Regions from separate parts of the Homo sapiens genome. Here region 2 is linked to region 1. Evidence: fine-mapped expression QTL. A gene starts in region 1. The other region holds a variant in brackets. All regions are shown on one strand. Distances are between the middles of the regions. Region 1 holds the start of RASGRF2 (Ras protein specific guanine nucleotide releasing factor 2). Region 2 overlaps RASGRF2 (Ras protein specific guanine nucleotide releasing factor 2).

The links.
Region 2: its variant is fine-mapped to the expression of RASGRF2 in whole blood (TOPMed, PIP above 0.99).

The regions. Positions count from the first base shown.
Region 1 is chr5:80,959,154-80,962,185 of GRCh38, forward strand. RASGRF2 (Ras protein specific guanine nucleotide releasing factor 2) reads left to right here and starts at 1,210. Exons shown (of 27, transcript NM_006909.3): 1 at 1,210-1,873. The coding sequence starts at 1,586. RASGRF2-AS1 (RASGRF2 antisense RNA 1) reads right to left here and starts at 1,754. Exons shown (of 4, transcript NR_105015.1): 1 at 1,628-1,754. RefSeq lists an enhancer at 1,313-2,034.
Region 2 is chr5:81,206,224-81,208,978 of GRCh38, forward strand. It overlaps RASGRF2 (Ras protein specific guanine nucleotide releasing factor 2), which reads left to right. Exons shown (of 27, transcript NM_006909.3): 20 at 622-682; 21 at 1,023-1,126; 22 at 2,131-2,215. LOC124901017 (a long non-coding RNA gene) reads right to left here. Exons shown (of 2, transcript XR_007058842.1): 2 at 1-2,755. Among named protein-coding and RNA genes, the nearest start is that of CKMT2, 26 kb to the right of the region's middle. The variant C/T (reference allele first, on the strand shown) is at 1,432.

The DNA.
Region 1 (3,032 bases):
TGAATCCAGTCCTACAAACGATGAGCCTGTGACAGCTGGCCTTTGGGGTTGGATTCTGCCCTGGGCAGCAAAGTGTCCCTTATTTGGGTATTTTTTTCCAGGTTGAAAACTCGGCACTTAAAATTTAGCATCTTACCACTGTGAAATAACAGGCATTCCGAAAGAACTTCGGCATCTGATGCCTTTCCGGGAACACTTGGGCCACTCTCCTTAACCTTTACCGGCAGTTTTAAATACTACAATGCAGGTACAAGCAGAAAAGCCAAGGATGCGGGCTATGCAAAGCCACTCTGTGACTCTACCTACTGCCATGGGAACGTACTTATGGATGTGGCATGTGAGTGTGTGTGTATGTGTGAGTGGGTTTGTGAAAGTGTGTGGATTCGTGCGAATACGTGTGTGAGTGCTTTGTGTGTATTTTTGGATGAATTTGTGAATGTACATGTGTGTTCATCTGTGTGTGTGTTTGATTATCTGCTTATGAGTCTGTATGATTGTGAACGTGTGAGTATATGTGTGCTGTTTGTGTGACTGTATGAGTGTAATGTGTGTATGAATGTATGTTTGAATGTGGGTTTGAGTGAATGTGTGGGTTGTGTGTGAATGTGTGTGTAAGTGAGCATATCACTGCGTGCATGTGTGTAGCTCCTTAAGTGTGTATCTGAATGTGGGTTTTATTTTTGTGCGCGGGAACGCACATTGTGGGTGTATTTGTCTATATGCATTTGTGCGTTGTGACTGTGTGTTGAGTGTGAGCGTTGTGAGAATGTGTATTTGTGTGTCATGAGTGTGTGCGCGTGTGTTTTTGTGCATATGTGCGCGCATTGTGTTTGTGTGCATTTGTGAGTGTATTTTTGTGCGTCTGAGTGTGTGCATTGTGGATCTGGGTGAATGTACTGGTCTGCGTGTGTGTGGGTGTGCGTGTGTGTGTGCGCGCGTTGTGCGCGAGTGTGCGAGCGCGTGTGAGCGGGTGTGTGGTGCGGCCGGGCGCCTCCACCTCCCTGATCCGCCCCATCCCGGCGGGCGCCCGAGCAGAGGCAGCGGCCCGGGCCGGGGCGGGCGAGGGAGGGACGCGAGCCGGGGCAAGCGGGCTGCGCCACCGCCGGCGCCGCGCCGACTTTGCCCTTTAAATCGGTCTCCAAGCCGATTACAGCTGAGCTCCCACGTGACGTTTTACCTTCTGTCTCCCGGAGCGCGTTGCCCGAGGACAGTCCTTCCCCGGCTGCCGCCCCAGCCCGCCGCGGGGGCTCGGCTCCCGCAACTTTGGGCGAAGCGGCGGCCGGCTCGGGCGCCCTCGCGGGGCCGCGCTCCACGCGGGCGTTGGGGGCTTGGGGGGCTCCGGGGGCTCGGCCGGGAGGGTGGTGGTTAGGGCGGAGAGCGTGCCTCGGCCCCAGCCCGCGCCCCTGCCACCGCGCGCCGCGGCCTCCCGAAAGCGGGCGGGGTGCCCTGCGCGCGGCGTGGGGAAAGGGGGCGCCCTTCGCCGGCCGGGACCTGAGCGGTCGCGCCCTCGAGGGAGCCAGCTGGGCCATGGCCGCGAGGCAGGGGTGAGACCGGCGGCCACCCGTGAGCCCTCCGCACCCGCACCATGCAGAAGAGCGTGCGCTACAACGAGGGGCACGCCCTGTACCTGGCCTTTCTGGCGCGCAAGGAGGGCACCAAGCGCGGCTTCCTGAGTAAGAAGACGGCCGAGGCGAGCCGCTGGCACGAGAAGTGGTTCGCCCTCTACCAGAATGTGCTCTTCTACTTCGAGGGCGAGCAGAGCTGCCGCCCGGCGGGCATGTACCTCCTGGAGGGCTGCAGCTGCGAACGAACGCCCGCGCCACCCAGGGCCGGCGCCGGGCAGGGAGGCGTCCGAGACGCGCTGGACAAGCAGGTACCGCGCGCCTTCTCTCCGCGGTCTCCCAGCCTTGATCGCCGCACTCCCTTGCCGTCCTAATCCGGGGATCAGGGGTCGGGGGTCGTGAAAGAGTGCGGGGACTATGCTCCGAAATCCCCCCGCGTCACCAGTGGCGGGACATCTCCACGCTCCTTCCGATCTTCATCCAGGGATTCTCCCATCTCCATACCCCTCCACCCCACTGCCAAGTGATCAGTCAGAATAGTGGCCCGACTTGCTTTCATTACCCTGGTAGAGGTCGAGTCGTTTCAGCTTCTCTGCCAACCATCTATTGCTTCTCTAGACCTGGCTCGCCAGATTTTTGTCTGGTGACATGTATTGACACCTGTTGGGTGTAGATTGGCAAGACGGAACTAACTTATTTGGAAAAGTTTGATTTCTGCCATACCCGGCTGGCGCGTGTAGATTTCTTTGCCTGCAGATGTTTGACCACTGGTTGGGCTGGGAACAAGCGGGGCTCCCAAGCCGGACAGACACTTTCTGTTGGTCATTTTCAATCAGTCTTTGTGATTTCGGTCAGTTGGCCTTGCTAACATTTGACCTGCTGGGTGTAATTATGAAGGTAAATGTGTATTCATATTCCTCAGGATTAATATTTGGTAGCCACATTCTTGCTATGTTTAAAAATGTGGGCATTTTTAAAGAACGCTTCTGTACTTTTAAATGAATGCTTTGAAAATGAATGCGACCTTTTAATTCTGGGTCATAATTTTATTAGTTTTGCTGTGTGCTCATGGTCGCGGGGTGGGGGAGAAAAACCCTTTAAGTCTTAGTGATCCCAGCCCCTCATTCCTGCAAACACAAAGTTTGTATGTTTCCAATCACCGTTTGGTTATTAAAGTTAAAGCAGACTAATTTTATGCCCCTAATGTTCTCATTTAGCTTCTCAATCCCCACCTTGATATGAAAAAGGCTGATTGTTTTTGCTGTTGCGTAAAAATATTCGCAGCTGAATTTTCCATGTGAGTTCAGATCAGACAGCATCTACCGCACACCACAGAGGCTGTGGGAGGTGCTAGCAATGGAGTGATCCGTAAGATGCCTACCTAACCCTTTGGGGCTCATAAAACAATGTGTAAAATTAAGAGGAGTTAAAACTAGACCGACCGGAAGTTTGAGTTGTTTTCACTATAAA
Region 2 (2,755 bases), 250 kb after region 1:
AAGATATTTATTGAGAGCTGAATAACATGTATGAGATTCAGGGCCAAAAGTGTCTGAGGAAAGTCCATCTGGAATGCAAGGGGGAAGAAGCTATCTGCTGGCTCCTGCCTGGCATTGTTCAGAGTCTTGCCACATAGGAACCCCCTGTGCTTCTGGTCTACGTAAGCTTGAGAAAGGGGTGGCCCTGCGTCTCCTGCCTCTGTGAGGGCAGGGAAAGCCCACGGTAGGGGATAGAGGTGTGGGGAGGAGGGCACTCAGGCCTAGGAGTCCAACTGGCTGATAGCATTAGAGGATGCTCCATTTTACATTATGGATGGTAACTCAGAGCTCACCCAGCTCACCCTCAGACTCACTGTGACGGTGGTTGTTTCATTTACAACCTTGTATGTAACAGGTTGCCTTTTTGTTCTAAATCAGCTGTCCTGATGATTCTCTCATGCCTTGAGCATGTTTTCTGTTTGGGGATTGCTCATCTCCAGCTCAGCAGTTGGTTGTGCTGCATGGCCTTGTAGACCCAAATCCTCAGACCTCCCATCCAGGGAAAACCAAACTGCATTTGTAGTTTTGTTCCTAGGTTGTCTATTTTTTCTTTCATGGAGGATAATTTGATATCTTTTTCAGGGCCCTTTCACAAGATGACCAAGATGACATCCACCTAAAATTAGAGGATATAATTCAAATGGTAAGTCTGACCACATTTTTATCTAGCACAACTATGTGCAAACTACCTCTCCAAGGCGAGCAATATGCTTGTAACCGATCAAGGAGTGTTGTAGTATTAGGCCCTCTGTCCTATCTGTGAAGCTCTGTGAGATGAACCACATTTGGTGTGGGGTCTAGCAGTTGGTCTAAGATATTCATGTTGGCTTTGATACTTTTAGCTTTCTGCCATTTTTTTCATAGTTAGAATTTAGTGGTGAACTTCATGCTTCCACACATGCAGCTGTCTGCCTCACTGACCTGCAATGAGATGGCAGGCGCCCTCTCCTGGGTGTTTCATTTCCCTCCCTCATCTCTTGCAGACTGACTGCATGAAGGCCGAATGCTTTGAGTCCTTGTCGGCCATGGAGCTGGCAGAACAGATCACCCTCCTGGACCATGTCATTTTCAGAAGCATTCCCTACGAGTGAGTGCCACCCCCCACAGCAGCAGGGCTCGGCTGCTCTAGCTGTCTTAGAAGTTGACATTATTCCTAAGGCAGGTTGTGTGTATGTCTGTCCCCTCAGTTCCTGTGTGAGTATCTACCAGTTGTTTCCATCCATGGAACTGGCACGCCTCTGTGTCCAGCACTCTGCAGGATGGGAGCAGGACCAACAACAGCAAGGGACAAAGAACCCTGCCCAGGGACTTAGTCAACCTGAGTATCAGAGTAATTTCGAGTGTTTTTAATGACTATACAAAATAATTCCTGTATGCTGCATCTCACTTGTC[C/T]CTTGTTTCTTGCTGTGTCTGGTGACCTGCTCAGGAATGAAGTGAATGATCAGGAATGCTGCCCTGAAGACAGCCCATCTGACCAGGTGGAGCTTCTGCCCCGCTGAACTGCCTGGTCAGGGCAACATGCGGTACAAGCCTAAAAGGAGCGCTTTTCAGCCCTGACCACCTGCGCCCTCCTGAGCGCTGGGGAGAACAAAACGCAATCCCTGCCTTTGAAATCTGCATCCTCCAGGAGAATGGCAGGCAGCGCAGAGTGGAGGGAGAAAATTCTGCTTCTGACTAACATTTTTGGTAGTGATGAAATTTTTGGACCCTCTGCTAAGGCTTAATGTTTTTAAAAGCTAATCCTGGGAAAATAGTCTTGATTTCTAAGGTAGTACTTAACCTCTTTATTTCCCTTGTGTTGGTTCTTGTTTTCCAACTTCAGAGAAGGCTTTATAGGATCCTAATAGGGACACAGTTCCAAACATTTATAAGAGAAAGCTGGAAGCTGAAGAATCTTCCTTTTTGGCATTGAGAGGTAAACTGCAACAGCCGAGGTAAAATTCACTTGTGAGGCTGGCAGCAGCAGGTGTCAGGAACCATTCTAGGCCATGTCAAATGGAATTTTTCTAATATTCGTGACAACTGTCCAGGATCATAGCCACCATATTTTTAAAAACTTAATTGGTTTTGTGTTTTGTTTTGAACTTCCAGGGAGTTTCTTGGGCAGGGGTGGATGAAGCTGGATAAAAACGAAAGAACTCCTTACATTATGAAAACCAGCCAACACTTCAATGACGTGAGTAACCGTAACAGTAAAACCGTGGGCGTGTCACAAGAAGATGGATATTGGGGTCTAAAGACTCCTCTAAAACAAAGCAACTCTGTCACCCACTTTTTTTTTTTTTTTTTTTTTTTTTTTTTTTTTTTGAGACAGAGTCTCGCTCTGTCGCCCAGGCTGGAGTGCAATGGCGTGATCTCAGCTCACTGCAACCTCCACCTCCCTGGTTCAAGCAATTCCCCTGCCTCAGCCTCCCGAGTAGCTGGGATTACAGGTGCATGCCATCATGCCTGGCTAATATTTTTGTATTTTTAGTAAAGGGGTTTCACCATGTCGGCCAGACTGGTCTCGAACTCCTGACCTCAGGCAATCTGCCTGCCTCAGCCTCCCAAAGTGTTGGGATTACAGGCGTGAGCCACCGCACCTGGCCTGCCACCCACTTTTAAACAGAATTGATGGGATATTGACGACAAGCTTAAATCTCTAAGAGCTCACAGTAATGTAATAATGTCCAATTAACTTCCTGACATAAAAGGTTCACCTTTGATGGTACCCAGT